Linked DNA regions of Homo sapiens. The protein of the gene in region 1 purifies or fractionates together with the protein of each later gene. This does not show direct contact. Each region holds a gene or a part of one and is shown in the gene's direction. Other genes may lie near its edges. The genes, in order: TUBA1C, RCN1, HDAC6, CCT6B, CCT6A, BAG2 and TTC5.

Region 1 (4,648 bases):
AACTACTCCTGTTCTCCCACACCCCTGGAGCTGGGTGAGTAGACCCAGGTGATACTGAGCTTGCTGATGTGGTTAAGAGACCTTGATTGTTTCATGGGGAGTGTAGGTGGGAAGGAGGTCAAAGGTTGTGAGTAATTAGGGTTTTTATTATCTCTTGGCTTATGAGACCAGGTCCTTTGAGAACTTAGTGCTCTGCCAGTCTCCAAAGTGGCTAATCTGACTTATGATGAAATGCCAAACACCCTTTTTGTTTTCCTGTTAAGTCTGTGTGTACAGATTCTATGTTTATTCCCTTATTTTACTTAGCAGGTGTGGGTTTGGTAATTTCTAACCATATTCTGCTTTGGCCCCTCTGGCCTTTCTAAATTAACTTGGTCCACCTCATAAATATATATCTATGAGAGAGAGACACACACACACAGACACAGACACAGAGTCTTGCCTCTGTTGCCCAGGCTGGAGTGCAGTGGCGAGATCTCTGCAACCGCCACCTCCTGGGTTTGGGTTCAAGTGATTCTCATGCCTCAGTCTTCCGAGTAGCTGGGACTACAGGCGCGCACCACCATGCCTGGCTAATTCTTGTATTTTTAGTAGAGATGGGGTTTCAGCATATTGGCCAGGCTGTTCTTGAACTCCTGACCTCAGATGATCCACCCACCTCGGTCTCCCAAAGTCCTGGGATTACAGGCATGAGCCACTGTGCTCTACCATAATTTTTTTTTTTTTTGTATTTTTAATAGAGACAGTTTCACCATGTTGGCCAGGCTGATTTCAAACTCCTGACCTCAAGTGATCTGCTCACCTTGGCCTCCCAAAGTGCTGGGATTACAGGTGTGAGCCAGAAACAACTAATTTCTTAACCTATCAGTAAAGTCTTGGTAACATTTCTAGCCTTTATTATTATGGTCTTCCCTCTTCCGGAGATGTTTTGACGGTGAAGGAAAAACGTTCTTCCTATAGATTAGATTCTTCCACTTGGTTAAAAAGCTGCCTCTGACCACAGTTTTTAAAATACAGCTAACTGCTGCTTATCCAGCATTTTCTTCATGAGTCATGGCTATAGTTTGCTGGTTTAAGCTGGTTTTAAAGGAGGGAGAGAGAAGCTTTTGTCTCCTAAAGAATAGGATTAAAGCGGGACCAGAATGAGCTCAGTAGTTACACAATCATTCAGAGAATGAATCAGAGCTGGAAAGGGGAATTTTGCCTTAGTTTAAGGAATCATATCTACTGTGGCTACAAAGCAACTGTCTGGTCTTGCCGAGTAGTTCATGAACACATCTTTGGTTTTCCAAGGCACTTTTGCTGAATTAGGTCTTCAAAGATTTTTGCTTTTGAAATTATAGTCCCTGAGCAGGAGTGGCCTGCTGAAAGATGGTTATCTTTTTTTGTTTGAGATGGAATATCTTGTCACTCAGGCTGGAGGGCAGTGGTGTGATCTCAGCTCACTGCAACCTCCACCTCCTGAGTTCAAGTGATTCTCCTCCCTCAGCCTCCCAAGTAGCTGGGACTACAGGTGTGCGCCATCATGCCTGGCTAATTTTTTTTGTATTTTTAGTAGAGATGCAGTTTTGCCATGTTGGCCAAGCAGATCTCAAACTCCTGACCTCAGGTGATCCACCTGCCTCAGCCTCCCAAAGTACTGGGATTACAGGTGTGAGTCACTGCGCCCAGCCAGTTATCTGTCTTGAAGGTTAATCAGTCATTAGGTGTGAATCATTCCTAAATGTCCCATCTGATGTATTATACCCTGACATTTTCCTTTCTTCCTCCCACAGCGTGAGTGCATCTCCATCCACGTTGGCCAGGCTGGTGTCCAGATTGGCAATGCCTGCTGGGAGCTCTACTGCCTGGAACACGGCATCCAGCCCGATGGCCAGATGCCAAGTGACAAGACCATTGGGGGAGGAGATGATTCCTTCAACACCTTCTTCAGTGAAACGGGTGCTGGCAAGCATGTGCCCCGGGCAGTGTTTGTAGACTTGGAACCCACAGTCATTGGTGAGTTGACCTCAGTAACCCAAGTGAGATCCCAGGGTGCTGGGACAGGAGGTCTGTCCTGGGGGGGCTCCGCTGGTCACTCACCCACTCTCCCTCCCCGCTCCTTGTCCCTCCTCCTCCTCCCCCATCATGTTCTCCAGATGAAGTTCGCACTGGCACTTACCGCCAGCTCTTCCACCCTGAGCAACTCATCACAGGCAAGGAAGATGCTGCCAATAACTATGCCCGAGGGCACTACACCATTGGCAAGGAGATCATTGACCTCGTGTTGGACCGAATTCGCAAGCTGGTAAGTATAGTACTTTAAATAAAGTGGGATGAGAGTTTCTTTTGCAGTTCTGAGACCAAACTACAGAAATCATTCTTTGCAACTAAAATGAGACTATTTGCATTGCAACTAAAATGTATCTGTTCACTAAATTAATTGGATTTCTGAACCAGATGATCTTGGATTTATGGGACAACTATGGGGTAGAAGTAAGTGCTCTTTAGCCTATTTTGCTTCAAGCTGAGACACCCCTTTTGAGGTCATCTTAGTCATACTGAGTGAGTAGGTAGCTGACTTCTACATGTAACTAATTGATCAGAGTCATTTTTTAAAAATCTGGGATGGTTCCTTCATGTCAATACAGAAAGTTCAGAGAACAAGAAGCCAGTGTCACACTGACAAGAAACAGCCAATACTGGAAACTTCCAGTACTGCTGAAAGTGGAGTCGGGAGCTTCCTTATGAAGTGTGCTGTTTGGATCACTTTAATTAAGAGCCTGGCAATCAGATGACTCTTTGCTCCTTAGGCATGTGGGCAGCTTGTAAGTAATTAACCAGAGATCAAGCATGATGGTCTGGGCAGAGTAACTTGTCAAGAAAATCACATTGTATTAAGCCCAGCCATGACTGCTCCATTCTAAAATAGAATAGCCTCATCATTCATGGCTTCATACTTTCTCAGATGTTTACGTAGTCTTCCCAGCAAAACTGGACTGATGTTTCCGATGCTTAAAAACTAAGCTTTAGGCTGGGCACGGTGGCTGACATCTGTAATCCCAGCACTGGGAGGCCAAGGTGGGCGGATCATGAGGTCAGGAGATCGAGACCATCCTGGCTAACATGGTGAAACCCTCTCTACTAAAAATACAAAAAAATTAGCCGGGCGTGGTGGTGGGCGCCTGTAGTCCTAGCTACTAGGGAGGCTGAGGCAGGAGAATGGCGTGAACACGGGAGGCGGAGCTTGCAGTGAGCCGAGATCGTGCCACTGCACTCCAGCCTGGGCGACAGAGTGAGACTCCATCTCAAAAAAACAAACAAACAAAAAAAACCCTAAGCTTTAGTTATAAGCACTGACTTGGAAAATCAGGGACCTGCCTTTAGGACAAATAAACCTAGTAGCTATTTAGGGTTCTGGAACGTGAGGTTTATTGCCTACCAAAACAATTGCATTTGTCCTTGTCATTACTGTGCTCACAGGAGGCTTAACTGGTGTAATTGGTAGGCGAGAGTCTGCCCTGTGCATTGATCTCATGTAGTTGATGGACCCACAGGCTATAAGGGAGCTGAGTAGAGAATGTTCACAAATCTGAGGCCCATCACTTGGAGAAGCAAGAGTTTACAACAGAATACTTTATTTGGAAGGTCAAAATCATTCCTTCGTAAAGTAGCAGTTTGCTAACCAAAATAGCCCAGTTAGGTGGAGGAAATCCCCAACAACCTGAGGTCTCATGGAATTGTGGTTGTGTCACTTTACCCAAAATAAATGGGCTTCTTGGTACCTAGTGTCATATATTGGCTTACTGGGCCAATACTGTGCTTACTGTGCCAAGCACTATGCTGAGTACTTACTTAATTCTCAACCTAAGGTGATTACTATTCTCACTTAATCAGTGGAAGAACTGAGAAATGAATGTGGTCATACAGTAAGGAACTGGTACAGCCGGATCCTGACACAGCCTGACTCCAGTACCAGGGTGTTAGAACTTTGGCTATTCTGTTGTTCCACCTCAGAAAGCAGCTGCCAAATCTTTACAAGACATCCACTGTACCAGGCTGGTGGTCCTGGGCCTGCCCCTTAGGACCTCTCCAACTAAGAAACTGCCCTGTTCTGTGGCCACAGCAAGAGAACCAGAGGCTGCCTTCCCAGTTACCAAAACTTGAGCCCTGTATGCAAGCCCAGGCCTTGTGATTCCTCTGCCTAAGGCAATAGTTCATCTTAAAATAGTCTTAGCAAAGGTTTTTCTGCTCAAGGACTTGATTGTGAAAAGTTGTTCTGAATCACTTAGCACTTAAAAGCTTTTTTTTTTTTTTGGAGACAGGGTCTGCTCTGTCATCCAGGCTGGAGTGCAGTGGCCTGATCATCAGTCTTGAACCCCTGGGCTCAAATGCAAATGGTCCTCCCACCTTGGACCCCCAAAGTGTTGATTACAGGCGTGAGCCACTGCGCCTGGCCCAGAAGAGTTTTAAAATTGCAATTGGAGTAGCCATAGATTTATAGAAGTCCTCTGTAGGTTTCACCAAATGTGAACACTAAATGAAACTTTCGCAACACTAAAATGAAACTTTTTTATTTTGCAGGCTGACCAGTGCACCGGTCTTCAGGGCTTCTTGGTTTTCCACAGCTTTGGTGGGGGAACTGGTTCTGGGTTCACCTCGCTGCTCA
Region 2 (4,648 bases), on another chromosome or scaffold:
TCAGAGTTTGTAGGATGACTTGGAGGTTGCCAGGTGTACAGCAGGGGAAGGCCTTCCTGAAGAGAAAACAGCCCATTTCTAAAGGGTTTGAAAAGCGTTCTGGGGCATGAGGGGTGGTGAGTCTGCAAAGGGGCAGGGAAGGGAAGTGAGAGGTGAGAATGGAGGGGAAACCAAGGGCAGAGCAGGAAGGACCTTGGTGAGATGGACATGAGATGTTATCCTGTACATTGTCAAAATGTCATAATCCCCAAAACTCATTGGGAAAGTCAGGCTGGCAGGAGGGCAGTACACAGAGAACATAATCAAGGCACAGACTAGACCAGTGGCAGGGAGAGGAGGTGAATGCCAAAGGGGCTTGGTCTCTCCGGATTCCAGGAGGGGATGAATCTAGACACCAGTGGGAGGCAGAACTGGCAGCTCTTGCTCTTGACTCAATGAGGGGGAGAAGAGAGAGGTAGGAATCAAGGGGACATCCGGGTCTCTGGCCTTAGCCACCAGATGGGTGATGGATGCACCATTCACTTGTAGGTTAAATGTGGGGTAGAGGCGGGGTAGGAGGTGCTGGAAATTATGGGTCCTGTTTGGGATGGGGCTGAGTGTGAGAAGCTGCCCCTCTGTCCAAAGCTTCTGTTTCAGTGGTCCCCTCCAAGATTGGGCTGAGGAGGAATGAGTGTGGCTGGATCTAGGCAACTTTGTCACCATCACCTGTCAGTCCTGAAAATGTGACAGCTCTAAGGCCCCTAAAGACACCTGGACCAGAGGTTGCAAAGTGGGAACCCGTAGGCTGCATGCATTCATAAATATGCGACACAGTGTAAATTACTTGCCCACGTTTAAAGTTTGAATGGTTTCACATACAGACCCCCATATCTGGCTTCTCTTGACACCTTTATTCCCATGTGTCAGTCATCGTCTGCAGCAGAGTCGGCCAGCCCTATTTGGCGGCTAGCAGGGTACCTCCAAGTGGCCATAGGTCCCATCAAAAGGTTTTGCTCATTCTGTTACCTGTTGGTGTTGAGAACAAATGATGATGGAGTTGGTCTGGGTTTGCTCCTTGCATCAACACCTTAACTTCATTCATTTATTCATGCAACAAACACCCGAATGGCTACTGTGTAGCAGCTACCATCAGCCACTGATCTAGATTATTGTCTTTAGTGAGGAAAAGCATGCATTCTCTCCTTTATTCCTCACAACATTCCTTGTGAAGTAGGTGTTCAGTTTACAGATGGGGAAACTCAGAGAGTCAAGACACTTGCCCAAGATCACGCAGATAATGGGGACCAGAGGCAGGACGGGGATCCAGGTGTTCTGATGAAAGTGCTAGGCTTCATCTCCATCCTAGCTGCCTTTCCCAGGATCTCCCTTGACATTGTTAAAGAGAAGGTTAAGATCTTATTTATTCTTACAACAAATATTTATTGAGTCCCTAATATTTGTCAGGCTGAGCTATGTCCTAGATGTTTATTTGGCATAGATTAGATGCTGTCCTTTCCACAAAAGAGGATTGTAGAGTCTGATGTCATTACCCTGAGATTATGTTTCCCAGTTGGCGTTGGGTAACCCACTGGCATGTCTCCACTGTGTCCCCAGGATCAGAGCAGTGCTTGGCACATAACTGGGCTCAACACTGCACAATGTTAAAAGAATTCTGCTGTGTCTGGCTATGATTTCCTGGGGGAAGAAGCCTGAAGACACTTGAAGTTTCATGTTTTAGTCTTTTTTTTTTTTTTTAAAGACAGGGTCTTGATTTGTTGCCCAGGCTTGTTTACAGTGGTACAGTCATAGCTCACACTGCAGCCTCGACCTCCTGGGCTCAGGCAATCCTCCCACCTCAGCCTCCTGAGTAGCTGGAGCTACAGGCATGCATCACCATTCCTGGCTAATTTTTTTATTTTGAGACGGAGTCTTGCCCTGTCGCCCAGGCTGGAGTGCAGTGGCGTGATCTCGGCTCACTGCAAGCTCAGCTTCCCAGGTTCACGCCATTCTCCTGCTTCAGCCTCCCGAGTAGCTGGGACTACAGGCACCCGCCACCACACCTGGCTAATTTTTTTGTATTTTTAGTAGAGACGGGGTTTCACCGTGTTAGCCAGGATGGTCTGGATCTCCTGACCTCATGATCCACCTGCCTCGGCCTCCCAAAGTTCTGGGACCACAGGCGTGAGCCACCATGCCCGGCCATTCCTGGCTAATTTTTAAATTTTTTGTAGAGTCAGGATCTCACTATGTTGCCCAGGCTACTCTCAAACTCTTGGCCTCCTACCTCAGTCCTCCCACCTCAGCCTCCTGAAGCACTGGGATCACAGATCCAGCCTATCTTTTAGGATTGAGACCTGTTAAACTTGCAAATGAAGGGGTACTTTCAAGCTGTTGGTGATGTTTACACCTTCCTGAGAAAGAGGAGCTTGGGTTCTTGGGTTCAGGTAGGAGGTGGAGACATTGATTATTCACTCCTCCCCTTCTCGTGTACACCCTCCCCCACCTAAAAAAAAGTTATAGGAGATTTTCTCTGTCAAACTATCAAACTGATGAATTTGTTTCCCATTTTTTATTAATTAAAGATTAATTGCCACTCAGAATGTCTGTTGACAAGAAAGTTTTACCACTGAAGCTGTTAGAATTCCAGCCCAAAACAAAGAAAGAAATCTAGAGTTAGCCTGTATGACCTCCTCCCAGATAAATGGACTACAAGGGTGAAACTTTTTTAAACACTGGGGATAGCTTGGAGGTGTTTTTGAAGTTCCCCACTGGGATGCTGTCCTGGTTTGGGACCATCTGGTCTAGAGATGACAAAAGTGGGTTCCCAGCCTGAAGTTTGCTCTGGGCTAGCATTTAGGGTACCTCAGTGGAGTTCAGTGGGAAATTTGTGAAACCTAGGCCAGCTGTGGAGCTGGTATAGGAGTCTTTACCCTAAGAGCAGAGGGTTTAAGGTTCCTAGAGCGGATCAGCTGGTCAAGTTTTGTGAATAGATTCTATGATGTCAAGGCTCCTTCAGCCCTGACATTTGTGCTGTGTCCACCATCTGGTGTCTTCTTGCTTTACGTTTCAAGTCTTTGTATCCATGGTGGTGGGATTTAAAAAAAAAAATCACTTATCTTTTGATTTACATACAGTTTCCACTTTTTGCCTTGGACCTAAGCCAGAAGACATGAGTTCTCACCCCAGTTTTACCAAATACTGGCTGTGTAATCTTAGAAGTTATTCCATTTCTCTGGGCCTCAGTTTCCGTTACTCCAAAATGAGGGTGCTGGACTACAGCAGGGAAGATTAATAGGTTTCATCTTACAGATCAGCTCTGATCCGTTGATAATGGCCATCACCAGAGCACAGTGCTGAGAATTCTGAGAGCACCTCTAGGTTTATCAGGACAGAGGGGCACGATCCATTAGCAGTGTCTGCCATCAGCACTGGTTGGGGGAAAGCACATCAACCTTGGAAGGATAAACTTGAAGATTCCTTCCAGCCTCCTTGGATCATTGATTCTGTTGTAGTTGTATGTGCATTTTGGATTGTGCAGGTGTTTGATCTTTTGCTGGACCAGCATCACACAAGCCTTGATAATATAACAGCCTTGTGCCTGTGTGTGGGTTTCTTTTTTTTTTTTTTTGTACTGCAGGAAGATTGTTGATCGAATCGACAATGATGGGGATGGCTTTGTCACTACTGAGGAGCTGAAAACCTGGATCAAACGGGTGCAGAAAAGATACATCTTTGATAATGTCGCCAAAGTCTGGAAGGATTATGATAGGGACAAGGATGATAAAATTTCCTGGGAAGAATACAAACAAGCCACCTATGGTTACTACCTAGGTAAGAGGTGCTGCAGGAGCGATGACACAGTGGGGGCCCAGATCACAAGCTTTTTGTAGACTCTCTCTTCTCTTATCATATCCACTCCCTTCAGGGAGATGTCACAGCCTCCTAAGTAGAACCTGCTTGTATAACACCCTCCTCTGTAAACTCAGAATGTACTGAGTTGCTTACACTGAATGAAGTTACAGGTGGGAGGGAAGGGCTGTGAGGGCTAATAAAAAAAATCCCTTAGATTGAGACCCCATCTCAACTTCGTCTCAGATGCACACACGGAGAAGAAAGCAGAAAGGAAGTGTGTCTGTGGTATATTTTCAAAATGCTGCCTAATTCTGGATAGCAAGGATTGAGTGGGCCGGAGCAGTCAGGGAAGGCTTCCTGGTGTGGGTGGTTTGGAAACTGGAGCCTTGGAGAATGGATTTATATTTGGAGAAGGTGGGTCAACTGGAGGGGCAAAGATGCAGCAATGCATGCAGTAATGGGAAGGGTTTAGATCCAAGACAAACAAGATCGGGAGAAGGAAGGAGAAATGAGATTACAGAGGCACGGGGTGCAGACCTGCTGGGTGCATGGTGAGGTTGGCAAAGAAACAGGCCCAAGGAGAACCAAAGATGCACTCACGCGGCCAGAATCGGGGAGATCTTGAAAGCCAGGCACGGCGTTGAGACAAGATGTTTTGGGTACCAAAGAGCCTCTGTATGTTCCAGATCTAAGAATGAGATGATGAAAGTAGAGTTCTGCAAAGAGAAGTATGGCAGTAATATAGTCTAAAGCCTGCGCTCTTAACCACTTGCAGTAATTCCCCTAATATGCCATGAGGCCTAGATTATGGGGTGGC
Region 3 (4,353 bases), on another chromosome or scaffold:
ACTGATAGGACCCAGGGTCCTGCCACTCAGCACTAAATGCCCCTGCAGACCCCAGGGGTCTAGCCCAGCCCTCTTCCAGGGCGTGAGTATCGTCGGTTACTGAGGTGCTGTCTCCTCCCCAGGATCCTGATTGTGGATTGGGATGTCCACCACGGTAATGGAACTCAGCACATGTTTGAGGATGACCCCAGGTAAGGGCTGCAGTCAGGGGCCGCAGTGTGATCAGGGAGGCGGGTGAGCACCTCAGGGGTACTGGAGCCCCTAACCAGCCATGGTCCGCTTCCCACCCCCTCCCTGGCAGTGTGCTATATGTGTCCCTGCACCGCTATGATCATGGCACCTTCTTCCCCATGGGGGATGAGGGTGCCAGCAGCCAGATCGGCCGGGCTGCGGGCACAGGCTTCACCGTCAACGTGGCATGGAACGGGCCCCGCATGGGTGATGCTGACTACCTAGCTGCCTGGCATCGCCTGGTGCTTCCCATTGCCTACGAGGTACAGCTCAGGATAGATCGCAGGACGTATGTGACACGCCTGTGCAGGTGGCAGCCTGGACCTGCCTCCTTGGCATGTGTGTGTGTGACTACCATGTGGCTGATGATATGAGACAGCGCATGGGTGTTTAATGAGGCTACCAGGGCAGTTGGTGGCTGTGATCACCTTGTGTATTTGTGCACAGATGGCTGTACATGACTGCCTTCTCTGTGTGACACTGTGTGAGTGACTGTCTTGGCTGTGTGTGTGAGGGCCTTCTGACTATGCACCAATGGCCCGTGTCCTGGCTGGATCTGTGTTGTATGTGCGTGCCATCACAAGTGCTTGAGTATGTGCGTGTGCGACTCTGTGCAGGCAGGTATTTCTCACCTTTTCTCTGTGTGATGGGTGTGATACTGTATGTCACTAAATGCAACCATCTCTGTGACAGCCTGTGTGGGACCTTCTGGATGTGGAAGGCTGTGTGTGACAGCAGTCACTGTCTGGCTGTCTGCCCTGGCTGTTTGTGTGTATGTCTCTGACTGGGAGGTAGCTGCCTTCCCTCTGTGTGAGCTAGGAGGCTGGTGGCTTGTGTATGGCTGACTCTGGGAGGGAGGGAAAGGGTGTGAGCACCGCTCTGTCACCCTGGGCGCCGGTGTGCATCTTTGGATCTGCATGTGCATCTGACTGTGCATGGGTAGCCAGGACAGCCTTCTGTGTGTGTACAACTGTATGTGCAAATAACCAGCTCTTGTGGACATACCAGAGTGCATGTCGCCATTGTGGCTGTGTGGTGATGGCATGTGTATGTGACTGTGCAGGATGGCTGTGGGTTATTGTCCTCTTTGAGAAACTGTGTGTGTGTACATGACTAGTGCAGATATATAGTACTGATCTATATGGTACTGTCTGTGTGGCAGTACGTGTGGCTCTGTGTGACCATCTTCTCTGTATGTGGTTCTTGCGTTGCCATCTTCTGTTTTGGAAGTGTGCAAGCACCTCTCTTTGGCACTATGTATATAAAACCCTGTATCTTGTGTATGTGTGTCCCACGTTTGACCCTGGGGTATGTGTGTGTGAGGACATGTCTCTGTCTCTCTGTTTTTCATGTCACTCTCTTGACGTGTCAGTCTGTCTCATGTCCCCATCTGTCCCTTTTTTTTTTTTTTTGAAATGGAGTCTTGCTCTGTCACCCAGGCTAGAGTGCAGTGGTGCAATCTCGGCTCACTGCCAGCTCCGCCTCCTGGGTTCATGCCATTCTCCTGCCTCAGCCTCCTGCGTAGCTGGGACTACAGGCTCCCGCCACCACGTCTGGCTAATTTTTTGTATTTTTAGTAGAGACAGGGTTTCACTGTGTTAGCCAGGATGGTCTCAATCTGACCTCATGATCTGCCCGCCTCGGCCTCCCAAAGTGCTGGGATTACAGGCCTGAGCCACCATGCCCGGCCCCCATCTGTCCCTTTCTGCCATCTCCATGTCTCTAAGTCTGCATCTATTTCTTCTACCTCTGAGTCTGTATTTCTTTTCTTCCCTTCTTCATTTTCAGTCTCTGCTTTTGTGTCTCCTAGTCTCCAGGTTCTGTGTCTCCATCTCTCTGACTTGCATCTCCATGTCTTCATTTGTCCTTTTCTCCATGTCTCTGGGTCGCCATCACTTACTGCCTACCAAAAGCCCCTACCCTCATGCTTATACATCTCTTCTCTCCCTGCCTCAGTTTAACCCAGAACTGGTGCTGGTCTCAGCTGGCTTTGATGCTGCACGGGGGGATCCGCTGGGGGGCTGCCAGGTGTCACCTGAGGGTTATGCCCACCTCACCCACCTGCTGATGGGCCTTGCCAGTGGCCGCATTATCCTTATCCTAGAGGTAACTTTCTCTTGGTCCCTCTTCCCACAGTGGGAGGGTAGTTTGGAAATGTTGGCACCATCACTCAGGACAGTTTCCTGAAATCTCCTTTGAGTGTCCCTGCCTGGGATTGTTGGCACATACTGGGTAGTAATAAGAATAACAGCAACATTAACAGCCTTAATTGAGTGCTCACTATGTGCAGAGCACTCTTCTGAGCACCTCATGTGTCTTATTCATTCAGTTACTTGGCAAAGCAGCCTTATGAGGTAGGGTAAGCTTACCTCATTTTCCTCTCTGAAGATCAGGGAAACTGAGGCACAAAGAGGTGTGATGACTAGCCTGAGATGGCACATTTACTGATGGCAGAACCAGGACTTGAACCCATGCAGCCTGGCTCCAGGGTTTGTGCTTTTTACTCTACCTGAACTGCCTCTAACAAGTTCCTGGGACAAAGGAAATTCACTGACCTTTGTAAATGACTCAGTATCCCCACGCCCTGTGCCTCAGTTTCCTCATCTTTATGAGGCAGGCTAATCATGGAGGAATGCCTGGCATATGGTAAATGCTGGATCTTTTGGATCTGGTTTTTTGTTGTTGTTGTTGTTGTTGTTGTTTGTGAGACAAGAGTCTCGCTCTGTCACCCAGGCTAGTCTGCAGTGGCATGATCTCAGCTCACTGCAGCCTCCACCTCCCGGCTTCAAGTGATCCTCCCACCTCAGCCTCCTGAGTCGCTGGGATTACAGGCACCCGCCACCACGCCCAGCTAATTTTTGTATTTTTAGTAGAGATGGGGTTTCACCATGTTGGTCAGGCTGGTCTTGAGCTCCTGGCCTCAAGAAATCCACCCACCTTAGCCTCCCAGAGTGCTGGAATTACAGGCATGAGCCACCGCACCTGGCCCCTGGTTACTGTTATGCGTTGTTCAGATATTAACCCACTCAGCAACCTTCTGTGCTCTTATTTTCTTTTTCTTTTTCTTTTTTTTTTTGAGACGTTGTCTTGCTCTGTCGCCCAGGCTAGAGTGCAGTGGTGCGATTGTGGCTCACTGGGTTCAAGCAGTTCTCTGCCTCAGCCTCCTGAGTAGCTAGGATTACAGGTGCCTGCCACCACACCCAGCTAATTTTTTTGTATTTTTAGTAGAGACGGGGTTTCACCATGTTGGCCAGGCTGGTGTTGAACTCCTGACCTCGTGATCCACCTGCCTCAGCCTCCCAAAGTGTTGGGATTACAGGCATGAGCTACCATACCTGCCTCTTTTTTTTTTTTTTTTTTTTTTTCCTTTTGAGACAGAGTCTCGCCGTGTCACCCAGGCTGGAGTGCAATGGCGCTATCTCGGCTCACTGCAGCCTCTATCTCCCAGGCTCGAGCAAGCAATTCTCATGCCTCAGCCTCCCGAGTAGCTGGGACTACAGGCGCATGCCACCACGCCTGGCTAATTTTTGTATTTTTAGTAGAGACGGGGGTTTCACCATGTTGGCCAGGCTGGCCTCAAACTCCTGACCTCAGGTAACCTTCCCGCCTCGGCCTCCCAAAGTGCTGGGATTATAGGGGTGAGCCACCGCGCCCAGCCTGTGCTGTTATTTTCACCACTTTACAGATGAGGAAAATAAGTCACTGAGAAATTAATTGGCTTGCAAAAAGTCGCACTTACTATGTGCCCAGTACTGCTTGTGACAGGACACGGTGGGAGTTAAGAACACAGATGACTCCATCAGAGAGCCCAAGTTCAAACCCCAGTGCTGCCTCTTCAGCTGTTATGACCTCGGACAAGTCATCTAACCACTCTGAGCCTCAGTTTCTTTATCTGTAAAAAGAATAGCAACTGGGATTCCTGTAGAGTGTAAAAAAAGTCAATACAGGAGTCCATGTGGAGAAAGAGTCCAGTTGTTCCTGTACTAGGTCAGGGCAGGGGCTTTTGTATGGGTTCACAGCAGTCGTCTTGTGCAGGTCAGGTCAGTGGTTACTGTATGATGTGAGGCCAGGGGTTCCTGGACAGTGTGAAGACGGATTTCTGTATGGCATGAAGGCAAGTTC
Region 4 (4,248 bases), on another chromosome or scaffold:
TGCCATGTTATGGATGTGTTTTTACAAGAGTAAAGAGTATTTTTATATTTGATATATGTGAAGGTATTATGCATATATATATAATATATATTATTATTTTTATTCCTAAAGGTTCTTGCTCAGAATGCTGGTTATGACCCACAGGAAACATTAGTAAAAGTTCAGGCTGAGCATGTCGAGTCAAAACAACTTGTGGGCGTAGATTTGAATACAGGTAAGAAAGTGAAGGAAAATTAGCTGCTTAATAAAGAGGTTATTCTTTAGTTACCCAGATCTTATGGTAAAGGAGTAGAGGTTTGGGTAACTTTAATATTTAAATTTTGGATGCCTTTAGTTTATTTTTGAGCTTCTTAAAAAATGTTCATTCATTTAAGAAATAGTTATTGAGTGCTTGTTTTCCTCTTGGGCTTCACACAGAACAAAACAGACAAAAATATCTGCCCCTGGGAGCTTATGTTGTAGTGGGAGAAGGTAGGCAGTAAATAATAACTTTAATAAATAAACTCCTTCAGCATTTTAGAAAAAGTAATGAATTATATGGAAAAAAGAGTGCTATAATAATGATCATGAATGCTAGTACAGGAGGGTGGAGAGAGAATGACAGCTTAAAGGGTTGGTCAGGGTAGGCATCATCTAGATGTCTGTTGAAAAAAAGTGGAAGGAAGTGAGGAAATTAGCCATGTAGGCAACTGGGGTTAAGTGTTCTAGGGAAAGAGAACAGCCAGTGGAAAAGCCAGTGTCTGATGTTTCTGAGGAAGGAGGTGAGAGAGGTGACAGAAGGTCAGATCATGCAGGGGCATTTGGACCAGTCTCAGGACTTTGGCTTTTACTTTAGAGGAGCAGGGAGCAATTTTGAGCAGAGGTGTGACATGGCCTAATTAATTAATTTATGAGACAGTCTCGTTCTATCACCCATGCTGTGGAGTGCAGTGGCACGATCTTGGCTCACTGCAACCTCTGCCTCCCAGGTTCAAGCAATTCTCCTGCCTCAGCCTCCGGAGTAGCTGGGAATATAGGTGTCTGCTGCCACGCCCGGCTAATTTTTGTATTTTTAGTAGAGACAGGGTTTCACCATGTTGGCCAGGCATGTGGCCTAATTATGTTTAAGAGAATCACTCTGGCCACTCTCCACTTTGTAGAGAAGTCAACTGAACAAGTAGAAGGTTGGAGTTGCAATCAACTGTGGTGGAGAATACTGGCTGGAGCAGGTTGTGGGTGAGAGGACATCAGCATTCAGTTTTGGCAGAGTCAAAGTTGAAGCATCTGTAATCTTTTAATTAAAAAAGTTGGATATATGGGTCTGGAGTTCAAGGAAGAGGTCTGGGTTGGAGATTAAAACCTGAGAGTCAGGCCAGGCGCAGTGGCTCACGCCTGTAATCCCAGCACTCTGGGAGGCCAAGGTAGGTGAATCACTAAAGGTCAAGGGTTCAAGACCAGCCTGGCCAACATGGTGAAACCCCATCTCTACTAAAAATGCAAAAATTAGCCGGGGATGGTGGCAGGCCCCTATAATCCCAGCTACTTGGGAGGCTGAGTCAGGAGAATTGCTTGAACCCAGGAGGTGGAGGTTGCAGGGAGCCGAGATGGCACCACTGCACTCCAGCCTGAGTGACAGAGCAAGATCTCTGTCTCAAAAACAAAAACAAAAAACACCAAAAAAAAAAAAAAAAAGAAAGAAAACAAAAAACAAAAACACCCAAAAAACCTTGAGAGTCATCAGATGTGTATGGTTTAAATCTAAAAGTCTGGATGAGATCACCTAGGGATTAAGGGTAGAGAGAAAAGAGGCTGGGACTGAACTTTTGGGTACTCCAACGTTAAGAGGTCAGGGAGGAAGAGGAAGAAGCAGCAAAGTAATCAGAAAAGGAGCCACTAATGCAAAAGAAAGAAAACCAGAAGAGTGTGGTATCCTGGAAGATAACATAGAGTAGGCGGCAGAATGTGATCAACTGTGTTAAATACTGGTAGATGAGGTCTGAGAATCAACCATTGGATTTAACAATATGGAGGTCATTGATGACCTTGACAAAAGTAGTTTTGGTAATGTATTAAATATTTTTAGAAGATATCAATTAATATTAATAGCAAATACTAAGATTTTGGTATGAAAATTGTTTTTACTTTTCAGGTGAGCCAATGGTAGCAGCAGATGCAGGAGTTTGGGATAATTATTGTGTAAAAAAACAACTTCTTCACTCTTGGTAAGTTCATATGAACATAAAGTGAAAGACCTGTAGAGTTATAATTGATAATATTAAGATGAAATTTTTTCTATTATTTTTGTCCCTGTACAGTGGAAAAATTGTCAAGTGTATGAAAGGTGTGGTATTCAGTTATTAGAACTAGCTTCTGTCATTTTATAGTCCATAGTCCCTTTTATATTTTAGATCTAGCAGTGTTAAGTTCTAAGAAAAATTAACCTTACTATTTGAGGGGGAAAGAAAAGGGGAAATTTACTGAAATAATAGCACATGCATGATGGAGAAAATCAAATGATATTGTAAAAATAAGCTCAATTTTGCTGAAATATAAATCAGGAATGCACTTTATCAGCAAAGGAGTTTAAATTATAATACAAAGGGTGACATTTGGGCCAGTGCGGTGGCTCACACCCGTAATCCCAGCACTTTGGGAGGCCGAGGCGGGTGAATCACCTAAGGTCAGGAGTTCGAGACCAGCCTGGCAAACATGGTGAAACCCTGTCTCTACTAAAAATACAAAAATTAGCCAGGCGTGTTGGTGGGTGCCTGTTATCCCAGCTACTCGGGAGGCTGAGGCGGGAGAATTGCTTGAACCTGGGAGGCAGAAGTTGCAGTAAGCTGAGGTCTTGCCATTGCACTTCAGCCTGGGCAACAAGAGTGAAACTCCATCTTGGGAAAAAAAAAAAAGGTGACATTTGTATTTGTATTTATAATAGCCTTGTCTCATAAAACATCATACTAACATCATTAAAGAACAAAGTACCCTACATAGGTAAAGATTGCTGGGGAAAAAAGCTAAGAGTGGGTTAGTAGGCTTTACTCACCCTCTCATCTTTTTCCTTAGCACAGTGATTGCCACCAACATTCTCCTGGTTGATGAAATTATGCGAGCTGGGATGTCTTCTCTCAAATGATGATTGAATTCAAAATCAACCCTTCTAGAAGATGAAATTTAGTACACTTTACATCTGACTACTATTGTGTAGCCTGAGCCATTCTGAATTTCTACACAATAAATGCAGTTTATGTCTTTTGGGTCTTAATAGTCTCAAAAATATTTCATCAAGGTATAAAGAACACAATAAATACTTTTACAGTAAAGGAATAATATTTAAATATTTCCCCAAGAGTCCTAACTCCCCACTCTTTGTTATATGCTATTGCAGTTTTTATAGCATAGGATCTTTATGATACTTAGACCTTTTGACAAGTTTTAATTAACAAAATAGAGGTTTTAGTACACCCAAGTAAATTTCCAATTTATCAGAGGGTATAAATATAGTAGGACAGAATGTTTCATTTTCTCTCAAAATTCTTTCAGTGACTTTTTGCTGCCACTCTTTCCTCTTATAAATATGGCGTGTAGCTTTGGGTTGCATTGTTTATAATATCTGACTCAATTTATTTTGTATATCATTTATTATATTTTATCTGGCTGTTTTTGTATGTATGATCAACAATTTATGCCACTGTGCTAGCTCTGGTAGCTCTCTGTCTAGATGGTGAGATAGAACAGGTCTCATCTGGAAAGAGAATTATTGACACCAATGGTGGGAAATAATTATTTTTGGCTTATAATACAACTGTTCAGTATAGATATTATAGCAATATCTTTCTTGTTTGAAACTCTAGAATTAATCTATTATGCTTTTTATTTTTATTAGAGTTCTTGTGGTTAACTTCTTTCCGTGGATGGTAGTTGATAAGAGACTAAAATATGGCAGGTGCATTAATGGAACTTTGGCCTGTTTGTGCATATAGGAGAAGGTTCCTTTAACCCTATAATTTTATAGCCTGTTTTTTCCACTTAATATGCTGTCAGCATCTTTCTAAGGCAGTATCCAGACTTCTTCTTCTTCTTTTTTTTTTTTTTTTTTTTTTTGAGATGGAGTCTCACTCTTCACCCAGGCTGGAGTGCAGTCATGATCTCGGCTCATTGCAACCTTTGCCTCCCAGGCTCAAGTGACTCTCCTGCCTTATCCTCCTTAGTAGCTGAGATTACAGGTGCACACCACCACGCCTGACTAATTTTTGTATTTTTAGTTGA
Region 5 (3,500 bases), on another chromosome or scaffold:
GAGCTCAGTGAACTGTTAAATCTTAGGACTAATCCAGTTTCAGAAGCTGCTTTCTTAATGTTTCCCTGCTTTCTGTAACTTTTTTTTTTCTTAATAGAGAAGTGAATTCTGGCTTTTTTTACAAGAGTGCAGAAGAGAGAGAAAAACTCGTGAAAGCTGAAAGAAAATTCATTGAAGATAGGGTTAAAAAAATAATAGAACTGAAAAGGAAAGTCTGTGGCGATTCAGATAAAGGATTTGTTGTTATTAATCAAAAGGTGAGAATGAAAACTCAATGTATAAACTAAATAGTACGTATCATCCTTTTTACTTTTAAGGTGAAAGATGTTGAAATTAATTTTTATTTTTGTTACAGGGAATTGACCCCTTTTCCTTAGATGCTCTTTCAAAAGAAGGCATAGTTGCTCTGCGCAGAGCTAAAAGGAGAAATATGGAGAGGTATCCGAGTAATTTGACTTTTACTCATTTTGCAAGTGAATTGGGATTATTTCTTTTTCCTTATACTTTATTTTTGGGTTTTTCAACTGTATAGTTAATTGGCATTAACTATATTCACATTGTGCACCCCGTCAGCACTGTCCATCTCTAGGACTTTTTTCATCATCACAAACTGAAACTGTATACCCATTAAATAGTTACTCCCCATTTCTCCCTCCCCCTTGCCCCTTGTAAACATTATTTTACTTTTTGTTTCTGAATTCAATATACTTTTTTCCAAAGAGCTCCCCACAATAAAAAGCTTTTTTTAAAAATTTTTTATTATTATTTTTTGAGACAGTCTTGCTCTTTCGTGCAGTGGCATGATCTTGGTTCATTGCGACTACCACTTCCTGGGTTCATAGGATTCTCAGCCTCCCGAGTAGTTGGGATTACGGGTGTCTGCCACCATGCCCACTGAATTGCTTTGTGTTTTTTTAGTAGAGATGGGGTTTTGCCATGTTAGCTAGGCTGGTCTCAAACTCCTGGCCTCAAGTGATCCACCCACCTCAACCTCCCAAAGTGTTGGGATTACAGGTGTGAGCCACCATGCCTGGCTAATAAAGAGCTCTTGTCCACCTTTTAGATTTCATTTGCTAACTTGGGGAGAGTGGTTTAAATGGAGGGTTAAGAGAAAAGACTAGTTTTTAGCTGGTTGATGGCAAATGGAAAGGCTTAAAGTACATTTTAAAATTTAATTTTGTGTGTAATTCTGAAAAATTCCTTCCTAAAAATTACTGGTCTTATCTTTGAAATTCACTGGTAACGTTGCTTATCCATCTCCCTTAAAATGCTATTTCAGGCTGACTCTTGCTTGTGGTGGGGTAGCCCTGAATTCTTTTGACGACCTAAGTCCTGACTGCTTGGGACATGCAGGACTTGTATATGAGTATACATTGGTAAGTGTATTTTTTTCTTAAAGGTAATAGAACCTTTTAGCTCGTGAATTATTTTTGTTTGTTTGTTTGAGGTGGGGTCTCACTCCTGCCCGGGCTGGAGTGCAGTGGTGTGATCACAGTTCACTACAGCCTCATCTTCCTGGGTTCAAGTGATCCTCCCGCCTCAGGCTTCTGAGCAGGTGGGACCACAGACGTGTGTGCTACCATGACTGGCTAATTTTTTTTTTTCTTGGTAATTTTTGTAGAAACAGGTTCATAATTGTGTTGCCCAGGCTGGTCTTAAACTCCCGGGCTCAGGCTGTCCTTCACCCTCAGCCTCCCAAAGTGCTGAGATTACAGGCATGAGCCACCGTGCCTGGTTCATGAAGTCTTTAGCAGAAAAATTAATTGAAATTCAGGATCAGATTTTTGTTTATATACATTTTGAAGGTTTATGTGTAGTAATGGGAAGCCATTGATGGGGAAAATCACATTTCTTTTATGTGATTTTTCAAAAGGAGATAATTTGCTTTAATGTGATCAAGTTTGTTCCTTATTAATATGCTACTTGTCATTCTCTGTAAGTCCCTCTTCTCTCTTCACTCTGCACAAATCCTGTTTTTGAAAATCATATTTTTTCTACACATAGGGAGAAGAGAAGTTTACCTTTATTGAGAAATGTAACAACCCTCGTTCTGTCACATTATTGATCAAAGGACCAAATAAGCACACACTCACTCAGATCAAAGATGCAGTGAGGGACGGCTTGAGGGCTGTCAAAAATGCTATTGATGATGGTAAGATCCTCACTGTATTTCAATTCTTTTATATTGTTTTGCTGGTCTGAAAGGCATGGCCGAATACTGTGTTTTTATCAGTAGTTTACACAGCCAGACACCATGCAAAAGCAGTCTTCCCTTTAGAATGACTGATGGTATGCTAAGGTTTTTCATAGCATATCATTATTAAAGGTGAATACAAATAAATGAACTAATACTGATCTGTTGAAAGCTGCCAGTGGCTAGTGAAGCCATTCTGGTTGAACCATTCTCCTATTTGGTATGTTAGTCACTTGTATTTTGTCATAGTAAATTTGTAAGAAATTAATGGCTTTCATATGTATATTTTGTTATTCATAATTAGTTCTGCAGTTTTCTTAGCATTTTTCCTTTTCCCCCATCCAACAGGCTGTGTGGTTCCAGGTGCTGGTGCCGTGGAAGTGGCAATGGCAGAAGCCCTGATTAAACATAAGCCCAGTGTAAAGGGCAGGGCACAGCTTGGAGTCCAAGCATTTGCTGATGCATTGCTCATTATTCCCAAGGTGTGCATGCTTTTAACAGTCAATCTTCCAAAAGATTCAGCTGATCAAACCTTTCTGATAATGTAGGATTTATTCATAAAGTGGATTTTGGATAAGCAAGTTTGATCAGTTTTCTTTCTGACTCTAGAACAGGTATTCCTCATCATCCAGATATATTTGGTTTCTCTGGGAAGCCTGAATAGCTGACATTGCAGATGGCAAGAGATAACCTGTAGTTTAATATTTGCAGTATTAGGGGTTATACTTGAGTACAAACTTGCTTTTTGCTTTTGTTTTAAACTGATATCATTGTTTTCTATTATATACCAGTTTTGATATATAATTTATGACTGGTGTATTGCTGCTGGGTTTGGGGTAGTTGAGAGAGTTGATCAGTAACTTGTGTCTGGTATTCTCTGAAGGGAACATAAATGTTCTGTCTTTATGCAATGAGTTTTTTTTTTTTTTTTTTTTTGAGACAGTTTTGTTCTTGTTTCCCAGGCTGGAGTGTAATGGTGCGATCTCAGCTCACTGCAGCCTCAGCCTCTCGAGTAGCTGGGATTACAGGCACCTGCCACCACACCCGGCCAGGTTTTTTTTTATTTTTAGTAGAGATGGGGTTTCACCATGTTGGCCAGGCTGGTCTCGAACTCCTGACCTCAGGTGATCCACCTTCCACGGCCTCCCAAAGTCCTGGGATTACAGGCGTGAGCCACTGCACCAGGCCGAGATTTTCTTTTTCTTTTTTCTTTTTTTTTTTTTTTTTTTTTTTTTTACTATCAGTTATTAGTTCCTGTTTTCTCAAGAATTAAATTTGTTTACTTTAGGTTCTTGCTCAGAACTCT
Region 6 (4,648 bases), on another chromosome or scaffold:
CTTCTCCGCCAGAAGTGTTGCCAGATGAGATATTAAGAAACATGAAGGATAAAGTGAGATGGTCCAACATTTCTCTAACCAGAGTTCCAGACGAAAATAACAGAAGGGGAGACAGGGAATATTCAAAGATACAACAGCCAAGAATTTTCTAGAACTAATGGAAAAATTGTAGACAAAAGACGTGTATATGAGTTTAAGGATAGCAATAGCTGACAAACAGTACAAACGTTACTTAAACTAAGTAGAGATCTAGGTTCAGCTTTTTAAAAGAAAAAATGTAAAATATGAGGTAGACATATTTTAGACTGTAGAGTAAATGGATGTACCAGGGCCAAAAGGAGCATGAATTGCCTTAAGGGAGAGGAAGGGGGAAGCTAAGGAAACAATTCCTGCTGAAGCAATTGGGTTTTGAAAAAGGTGATCCCAGTAGACAAGGGTCAGGGAGAAAGAATGCTACCTGAAGAGGGAATAGGACATGAAAAGCCCATGTTGCCAAATAAACCCTGAGATCTTTACATTTTGAAGAATGACATTTTACCCTTGCATGAAATGAAAAAGGTATACATAAAAATGTATATAAGAAGTTCTATAAATGATGAAATCTGGTTTTCACAGGGATAATGCCCTGGTAATTTCTATTATGTATTAAAAAAAGCCTTGTGGGATGGGGGTGGGGGAGGGTCCCTAAAACACAAACTTTAGCAGTTCCACCTAACTATTTGGTCTCATTTAATGATAAAATATTTTCGTCATATGACAGGCTTATTATATTTTTTCTAGAATGTCTTTTTTATCTATTTTGTTAAGAACATGAACTTACTGCTGTAACTCATAAATGAAACCTTCCTTTTCAGAATAGCATTGTTCTCTCTTATCATCTTACAATTGAATACAAACCGAAAAGGTGTTGAAAAATTAATCTCTTCTTTCAGCATCTTCTCATTTATCAATCACATGATTCACCTGTGTCATTTGTCTAAATATTGGAGTCATGGTTTGTGCTTTTAGCATAAATATTTAGTGCCAACTCCGTCTCTTTCCTATGTTCTGGGCCCTAGTTTATCTTTCTGAGAGATTGCTAATGTAAAATGTTTAAGTAAATACTGAATGGTCCTGGAATAGGGCCTGATACTTGCATTACTATTAGTTAGTAGAATATTTGTATTTTGATTGTGTTCTCTAGCCAAATTTGTCACATGCGATTCTTCCCAGTTCTTTGCTTTTACTGGCTCTTATAAACACACTTTGACATATATTTAATATCTTGAAGAATAAAGATATCCTGTGATTTTACAGCCTGTCAGTACTATTTTGGGGTATAACAGGTGGGTAACCGAAGGGGAAAAGGCATGTGTGTGCTTAGGGCAGGGAGAGGATCCTTTTATGGAATTGAACGTGCTAAAACATTGGTGAAGTTGTTCTTTCTGTGCACACTTAAGACAGCAGTTAGGATTAGATCTTTCATGAACTTGTATTTCTAAGACCATCCAAATACTGGGAATAGGTCTGTCACTTTCATTTTGCAAAAGTTGGCATCTTAGTTACTGTAATTCATAATAACAACGTTCCCTGGAAGTATAGAACATGTTAAATATACAATATATATTTCTTTATTTTGCCCTTATTCCACAGCTTAGTTTTTTAGTGACTGGGTATATTCATGTGTGTGTATAGTGTGAGTGCATGTGTGTGCAATTGAGTGAAGTGGGAAAGTAGTGCTTCTATAGTTTGATCAGGGCTTTACACAAAAAAGCCACAGAGATTTTCCCTTAAATTTGGGAAAAGACAAAGATACCCCCATGATTGCCACTGTTTAATACAGTACTGAAGGACCTTTTCTTAAAAAAAAAAAAGTAATAGGATTGGGAAGGAAGAAATAAAAACTGCAGATGATATGGATATGATTATTAACCTAGAAGAACCAACAGAATCAACAGACTGAACACTAAAATGAATACATGTAAATCAAGGTTGCCAGTGACAAGATAAACCTACAAAAACAGCACTTCTCAAACCAGTAAAAATCAAGTAGAAAATACAAATTCACAATAGCAGCAATATCCACGAAGACTACTATGAAGAATACATGGGAACTCTATAGATCTGAATAAATGAAGAGACATATATCATGCCTTTAAACAGAGAGATGTTATAAAGATGTCTAATTTCTCTTGTTTTTTGAGAAACACAATAAACTTACCCTAGAATTTATATGGAAAAGTTGGAGAAGTAAAAGTCCATAAATAGCTAAGTTATCTTTAAAGAAGATTGAGGGACCTGCTCTATCAAATATTAAAGTGTAGTACAAGGCTAGTGCTATTAAAAAAAAAAACCCAAAACTTGGCACTGGTATAAGAACAGTTAAATACACTAATGCATGGCATAGAGATTTTAGAGATAAATAGCGAATATACATTCGCTAGGGGAAAGATGGATTGCTTGGTAAATAATGTTGGGGAAAATGGCTATTTGGAAGAAAAAAACAAAACATTCTTACCTAACTGCATGCAGGGGTTGATGCTAGGTGGATTAAAGACATAAATATAAGGAAGGTAGAACTATAAAGTTAATAAGAGAAAATATAGGAAAATAGGACCAAAGGGTGGGGGAAGACCTTAGGTCAAAACTTCAAAAGCATACGCCATAAGGCAAAAAAAAAAAAAAAATTGATCGCATCAAAATAAGAGTCTCTCTTTAGTGCAAGACATCCCAGACGTGGTTCATATATGAGAGGATGAGAGATGGTTGCAATGTCTGTAACCAACAAGAATCTCTTGAGTATACAAATCAACAAGGGAACAGTAACTCCTGTTTAAAAATAGAAAAGCAAAATAGGAAAAGTCTATGAATAGGCTAACAAGGATACAAAGAGATGTCTGAAATTATTAGGAAAACACAAGTTAACACTGACATATCAGTGTATTTCTGTCACACTGGCAGCAAATAGAAAGTTGGAAAATGCAGAATGTTGGTAGGGATATGGGGACCCCTGTGCTTTGCTGTGGAGAGTGGATAGGTACAGGTGTTCTGCAGAATAGTCATAATACTAAGTCAAAAGCAGAGTACACATACCCTTTGTCTTAGCAGTTCTGTCCTGGTATATGTCCTAAGGAAATCCTCACCAAGGTCCAAAGGGGAGATGTATTCATAGAAGTGTTATTTGTAGTAATGAGAAGCTGGTAGACAACCTAAGTGTCCATCTCTGGGAGAGTGGAGAGGGAAAATCAGGTAGGTATACACATGGAGTATTATACAGCAATTAGCAGCAACTGATTAGAAGTACACATAGGGGGCTGGGTGTGGTGGCTCACACCTGTAATCCCAGCACTTTGGGAGGCTGCGGTGGGCAGATCACTTGAGGCCAGCAGTTTGAGACCAGCCTGGCCAACATGGTGAAACCCCAGGAGTTTGAGACCAGCCTGGCCAACATGGTGAAACCCCGTCTCTACTAAAACTACAGAAATTAGCCGGGCCTGGAGGCTGAGGCACGAGAATCACTTGAAAGCGGGAGGTGGAGGCTGCGGTGAGATTGTGCCACTGTGCTCCAACCTGGGTGACAAAGCAAGACTGTCTCAAAAACAAAAAACAAACAAAAATCTAGCAACCTGGATGCTAAGTGAAAAAATAAAAACAGAATGAGATATAAATTCAAAATATACAAATAATACAGATCTTGTAAAAAACAAATAGTATTAATTAGATAAACACGAAAGAATGATTGCCTTATGAGCTGGGAGGAAAATGGGAGAAAGGCAAGTGTATAGAAAAATGAAAGAATTTTAAAGCAGAAATGAAGAATTTTTGAAAAGTTTGGTGATCTTTAAACTTGATTTGGGTTGAATGAGAGATAAAGAAAATTAATAGGAAGAACATCCTGCATACAATAACCGTTTTGTTTTCCCAATTTCTATAGGGTTGAAGCTTTGAGAGAAGCAGCAACTGCTGTTGAGCAAGAGAAAGAAATCCTTCTGGAAATGATCCACAGTATCCAAAATAGCCAGGACATGAGGCAGATCAGTGACGGTGAGAGCCATCTCCACAGAAGGGGCTCATCTTTTACACTCCTTTAAAGAGTTTATGATAAGTGTGGGTCAATTTTTGCTTGACTTTTGGTATGCGTACACCAGGCCACAGCATTTAATGTGAGCCACAGAGAGCAGCTGCAGCTGTCAGTTCATTACAGCAGCCACTTACTCAGAGATTTCTTCCAGCATGCTCTCTACCCCAAGCCCCTGGCTAGGAGAGATAGGAAAAAGCCTGCAAGCTCAGAAAAGCTGGCCCCAAGCAGTAAGGCCATGTGTTTTATCCCAGGTTCACAGTCCTAACTTCAGTTCCTCACAAGTTACTGGACTGCAAGAGATTAAAAAAGCAGAGGAAGAGGGTGAGAGAGTGGAAGCAGAGAAGTAGAGACCAAAAAAAAAAAAAAAAAAAAGATGAATTGAGGTACAACATAAAGAGAAGGGACAAAATGCAGAGAAAATGAGGAAACTTGTAGGACCAATAAAAGGCATGAATGTAAAAATGTGCTGTCATTTTCTTTTTTCTTTTTTTGAGATGGAGTTTTACTCGTCACCCAGGCTGGAGTGCAATGGCGCGATCTTGGCTCACTGCAACCTCTGCCTCCTGGGTTGAAGCGATTCTCCTGCCT
Region 7 (4,373 bases), on another chromosome or scaffold:
TGCCATGGGACAGAGTCCCCAAGGTTCCTGTTGTTGCCTCCTTCCTAAGCCTCATATGTATATATCAGTTCAGTATTTATTGCTAAAGGAGGGGGCTTAATTTTGTAATGGCTTTTATTTTTAGCAATTTTTATTTTTATTTTTGAACTTTAGGTCCTTCCTCTTCTTTGGGGCTGGAACAGAATTAAATTTGTTTGGAAAAAAAAAAAAACACCACGTAGTTTGGCCTGCTTTATTCTCCCTAGGCCTGTATTCTTTGTTTTAGGATCACTTCAATTTATTGGAGTAATACCCCCATTTTTTTCTTTATACAAAGCAGTTTATTTCTCTCCCAGTTAAAAGAATTCCGACAATAGACAGCCCCAGGCAGGAATGGCAACTCCACAAAGTTGCTAGAGACCAGCTTTCTTCCATTTTCCCATTCTGTCATTCCCTAGGGGTGGTCTTCACTATGGTCCAAGATGACAGAGCAATACTGTTCTAATAGTGTTACTAGGCTGAAGGACCAGAGAGAGTTAGATAAATCCTCAGTTTCTTTAGAGTCTAGTGACATGTTTTATAACAGTTTATCTTAATATCCTTGTGGTAAAATGGAGAAATGTGAGTGAGGATTAATAACCAATTGAATTGGCCTGGCACGGTGGCTCAGCCTGTAATCCCACCACTTTGGGAGTCCAAGGCGGGTGGATCACGAGGTCAGGAGTTCAAGATCAGCCTGGCCAAGATGGTGAAACTCCGTCTCTACTAAAAATACAAAAATTAGCTGGGCGTGGTGGCAGGCACCTGTAATCACAGCTACTGGGGAGGCTGAGGCAGAGAATTGCTTGAACCTGGGAAGTGGAGGTTGCAGTGAGCCGATATCATGCCACTGCACTCCAGCATGGGCGACAGAGCGAGACTCCGTCTCAAACAGCAACAACAACTGAATGGCTGTAATACATTAATGTATACAGATGAATTGAGAAGTCTTCTAGTGAAATGGCTCAGATCTTTGTTCTTGGTCCAGTCCTGTTCAGTTTTTGATCAGTGCCTTGAATATCATTGATGACTCATTAAATTTATAAAGAGTGCAGAGGCCTCCTCAGAGAATGGATGGTAGAAATGCATTGATGAGAGAAGTTTTATCTATCTATCTGTCTATCTATCTATCTATCTATCTGTCTCTATCTAAGAAGTCATAAAGGCTGAGTCTAATAAGATAAAATTTTCAGTCCATTCTTTTGGTCCAAAAAGGCTTACATTCTCAGGTATAGCTTCAACATCATATATGAATATTACTAAGAATCTTAGTAGATAAGCTAAAGTCAGTATGAGTAACCAGTCTGATATAGTTTGCAAGAACACTCTTCATGGACTGCACCAAAAAAACCTATGGTAGCAAGAGACAGTTTTTATTAGAAGTACTGTCTGTTATACCACATATGGAGTCTTAAATTAGTTTTGGGTGTCATTTTGAGGCCTAGAGTCATAGAAGAGTGATTAGGAGCTTGTGGGGTATAAAAATAACTTGAGAATTGGCTGAAAGCAACTAGGGAAGATGGGGGTAGTAGTATGTGTAAACATTTGAGGCAGTAGAGATGTGGGACCCAAATACTGTTCCCCTTTTACTCAAATTCTGAGATGAGTTGACATGTTCTGTGTAGGGCTAGAGAGTAGAAAAATGGCCAGTAGGTGGTAGCCACAGAGAAGCAGTGCGTACAAACAAGTAAGTATGCAAAATTTGTACATACGGTTTCAGGAATAACTAGAATACCCATAAAATATCCACCTGCCTTAAAAACTAGAACATCATTGATAACTTGGAAGCCCTTGCATACCTCTCCATGATCTCATTTGTCTTCACAGCTATATAAATCTCATTGTATGATTATACCATAATTTATTCATCCTGTTGTTAAAGGATATTTGGGTTTCCAGTTTTTCTTTTTTTACTACCAAAGCACTACATTATTAATATTCTTGTATATGTCCTGATATGTAAGTGCAAAAGTTTCTTTTACAGCAATGGCTCTTGAAGAGTGGTTCCCAGACCAGCAGCATCAGCATCCCTTGGAACTTCTTTGAAATGCAAATTCTCAAGCCCCCTACCCAGACTTACTGAATTCAAAACTATGTGGGAGGAGCCCAGCAATCTGTGTTTCGCAAACCCTCCAGGTGACTCTGATGCACAGTAAAATTTGAGAACCACTGTTTAAGAGTATTGACATAGAATGGAATTGCTGGATCATAGAGTATATACATGTTCAACTTTTTTGAGAAGCACTAAACATTTCCAAAGTGCTTATATTAGTTTATGTCTCTACTATCAATAGATGAGTCACCCCAATGCTCCCCATCCTCTTCTGTGCTTGGTATTATCTTTTAGGTATTGCAAATACAGGAGATTTGAGTATTATTTCCTTGTGGCCTTAATTTGCATTTCTGATTATTAATGAGCTTGAGCATCTTTTCATATATTTAGAAGCCACTAATATTTTCTCTCGGTAAAATGCCTATTCGAGTCTTTGCACACTGCTGTATTGGATGTCAAATTGATTTATATATTCCCTGTACTAATCGTTTGTCTACATACAGTTTTATCCTGTTTTTTTTTTTATTCTATTGGGTCTTTTGCTGAACAGAAGTTCTTAATTTCAATGTCATTGAATTTATCCATCTTTTATGATAATGCTTTTTGTGTTTTAAGAGGTTCTTAGCTCTCCTAAAGTCATAAGGACATTTTCCCTCTACTGCTTTATGAAGTTATTTTGTCCTTTTCTTACAGTATGACTTTATTTTATGTTATGTACGGATATAATTTTTTTCATAATGAGTAAATAGCCCAGCACCTTTTATTAAAGAATCAATCCTTTCCCTACTGATCTTTAAAGCCCAGTCTGTCTTTTTCTTTTTTTGAAATTGTCTAGCTTTTTAATTTTTACCAACCAGATGATTATAAAATATCACATAGTAGGCATAAATTACATTTCTTTGTCCATTCCTGTTTCTTTTTCTATGAAATCTCTGTTTTCTTTTGTCCAATTTTTATTGGGTTGTCTTCTTATTGATTCCTTACATGTTCTGGATACTAATCCATTATAAATTATGTTTTTCAAATATATTTATCCAAATCGCAGCTTGCTTTTTCATTTTCTTAATGCTCTCTCTTTTTTTTATTATTATTATACTTTAAGTTTTAGGGTACATGTGCACAACGTGCAGGTTTGTTACATATGTATACATGTGCCATGTTGGTGTGCTGCACCCATTAACTCATCATTTAGCATTAGGTATATCTCCTAATGCTATCCCTCCCCCCTCCCCCCACCCCACAACAGTTCCCCGAGTGTGGTATTCCCCTTCCTGTGTCCATGCGTTCTCATTGTTCAATTCCCACCTATGAGTGAGAAAATGTGGTGTTTGGTTTTTTTGTCCTTGCGATAGTTTGCTGAGAATGATGGTTTCCAGCTTCATCCATGTCCCTACAAAGGACATGAACTCATCATTTTTATGGCTGCATAGTATTCCATGGTGTATATGTGCCACATTTTCTTAATCCAGTCTATCATTGTTGGACATTTGGGTTGGTTCCAAGTCTTTGCTATTGCGAACAGTGCTGCAATAAACATACGTGTGCATGTGTCTTTATAGCAGCATGATTTATAATCCTTTGGGTATATACCCAGTAATGGGATGGCTGGGTCAAATGGTATTTCTAGTTCTAGATCCCTGAGGAATCGCCACACTGACTTCCACAGTGGTTGAACTAGTTTACAGTCCCACCAACAGTGTAAACATGTTCCTATTTCTCCACATCCTCTCCAGCACCTGTTGTTTCCTGACTTTTTAATGATCGCCATTCTAACTGGTGTGAGATGGCATCTCATTGTGGTTTTGATTTGCATTCTCTGATGGCCAGTGATGATGGGCATTTTTTCATGTGTTTTTTGGCTGCATAAATGTCTTCCTTTGAGAAGTGTCTGTTCATATCCTTTGCCCACTTTTTGATGGGGTTGTTTTTTTTTTTCTTGTAAATTTGTTTGAGTTCATTGTAGATTCTGGATATTAGCCCTTTGTCAGATTAGTAGGTTGCAAAAATTTTCTCCCATTCTGTAGGTTGCCTGATCACTCTGATGGTAGTTTCTTTTGCTGTGCAGAAGCTCTTGAGTTTAATTAGATCCCATTTGTCAATTTTGTCTTTTGTTGCCATTGCTTTTTGTGTTTTAGACATGAAGTCCTTGCCCATGCCTATGTCCTGAATGGTATTGCCTAGATTTTCTTCTAGGGTTTTTATGGTTTTAGTTCTAACATGTAAGTCTTTAATCCATCTTGAGTTAATTTTTGTATAAGGTGTAAGGAAGGGATCCAGTTTCAGCTTTCTCCATATGGCTAGC

Evidence for each region.
Region 2: the proteins of TUBA1C (region 1) and RCN1 purify together in Homo sapiens (affinity purification with mass spectrometry; one large-scale study listed by BioGRID and IntAct). This does not show direct contact.
Region 3: the proteins of TUBA1C (region 1) and HDAC6 purify together in Homo sapiens (affinity purification with western blotting; 2 studies listed by BioGRID, with this or other methods). This does not show direct contact.
Region 4: the proteins of TUBA1C (region 1) and CCT6B purify together in Homo sapiens (affinity purification with mass spectrometry; 2 studies listed by BioGRID and IntAct, with this or other methods). This does not show direct contact.
Region 5: the proteins of TUBA1C (region 1) and CCT6A purify together in Homo sapiens (affinity purification with mass spectrometry; 3 studies listed by BioGRID and IntAct, with this or other methods). This does not show direct contact.
Region 6: the proteins of TUBA1C (region 1) and BAG2 purify together in Homo sapiens (affinity purification with mass spectrometry; 2 studies listed by BioGRID and IntAct, with this or other methods). This does not show direct contact.
Region 7: the proteins of TUBA1C (region 1) and TTC5 purify together in Homo sapiens (affinity purification with mass spectrometry; 2 studies listed by BioGRID and IntAct, with this or other methods). This does not show direct contact.

What each region holds. Positions count from the first base shown.
Region 1 is NC_000012.12:49,267,690-49,272,337, forward strand, and holds part of TUBA1C (tubulin alpha-1C chain), read left to right. Parts: intron 1-1,775; coding exon 1,776-1,998; intron 1,999-2,138; coding exon 2,139-2,287; intron 2,288-4,563; coding exon 4,564-4,648. UniProt on the Homo sapiens protein: Tubulin is the major constituent of microtubules, a cylinder consisting of laterally associated linear protofilaments composed of alpha- and beta-tubulin heterodimers.
Region 2 is NC_000011.10:32,093,528-32,098,175, forward strand, and holds part of RCN1 (reticulocalbin-1 precursor), read left to right. Parts: intron 1-3,616; coding exon 3,617-3,810; intron 3,811-4,648. UniProt on the Homo sapiens protein: May regulate calcium-dependent activities in the endoplasmic reticulum lumen or post-ER compartment.
Region 3 is NC_000023.11:48,817,919-48,822,271, forward strand, and holds part of HDAC6 (protein deacetylase HDAC6), read left to right. Parts: intron 1-122; coding exon 123-191; intron 192-301; coding exon 302-494; intron 495-2,187; coding exon 2,188-2,337; intron 2,338-4,266; exon of another isoform or gene 4,267-4,345; intron 4,346-4,353.
Region 4 is NC_000017.11:34,926,915-34,931,162, reverse strand, and holds the end of CCT6B (T-complex protein 1 subunit zeta-2), read left to right. Parts: intron 1-111; coding exon 112-214; intron 215-2,128; coding exon 2,129-2,201; intron 2,202-3,045; coding exon 3,046-3,115; 3' UTR 3,116-3,302; downstream 3,303-4,248. UniProt on the Homo sapiens protein: Component of the chaperonin-containing T-complex (TRiC), a molecular chaperone complex that assists the folding of proteins upon ATP hydrolysis.
Region 5 is NC_000007.14:56,058,265-56,061,764, forward strand, and holds part of CCT6A (T-complex protein 1 subunit zeta), read left to right. Parts: intron 1-97; coding exon 98-257; intron 258-355; coding exon 356-438; intron 439-1,279; coding exon 1,280-1,376; intron 1,377-2,004; coding exon 2,005-2,152; intron 2,153-2,205; exon of another isoform or gene 2,206-2,338; intron 2,339-2,542; coding exon 2,543-2,676; intron 2,677-3,482; coding exon 3,483-3,500. UniProt on the Homo sapiens protein: Component of the chaperonin-containing T-complex (TRiC), a molecular chaperone complex that assists the folding of actin, tubulin and other proteins upon ATP hydrolysis.
Region 6 is NC_000006.12:57,178,119-57,182,766, forward strand, and holds part of BAG2 (BAG family molecular chaperone regulator 2), read left to right. Parts: intron 1-3,913; coding exon 3,914-4,023; intron 4,024-4,648. UniProt on the Homo sapiens protein: Co-chaperone for HSP70 and HSC70 chaperone proteins. Acts as a nucleotide-exchange factor (NEF) promoting the release of ADP from the HSP70 and HSC70 proteins thereby triggering client/substrate protein release.
Region 7 is NC_000014.9:20,284,969-20,289,341, reverse strand, and holds the end of TTC5 (tetratricopeptide repeat protein 5), read left to right. Parts: 3' UTR 1-3,115; downstream 3,116-4,373. UniProt on the Homo sapiens protein: Cofactor involved in the regulation of various cellular mechanisms such as actin regulation, autophagy, chromatin regulation and DNA repair.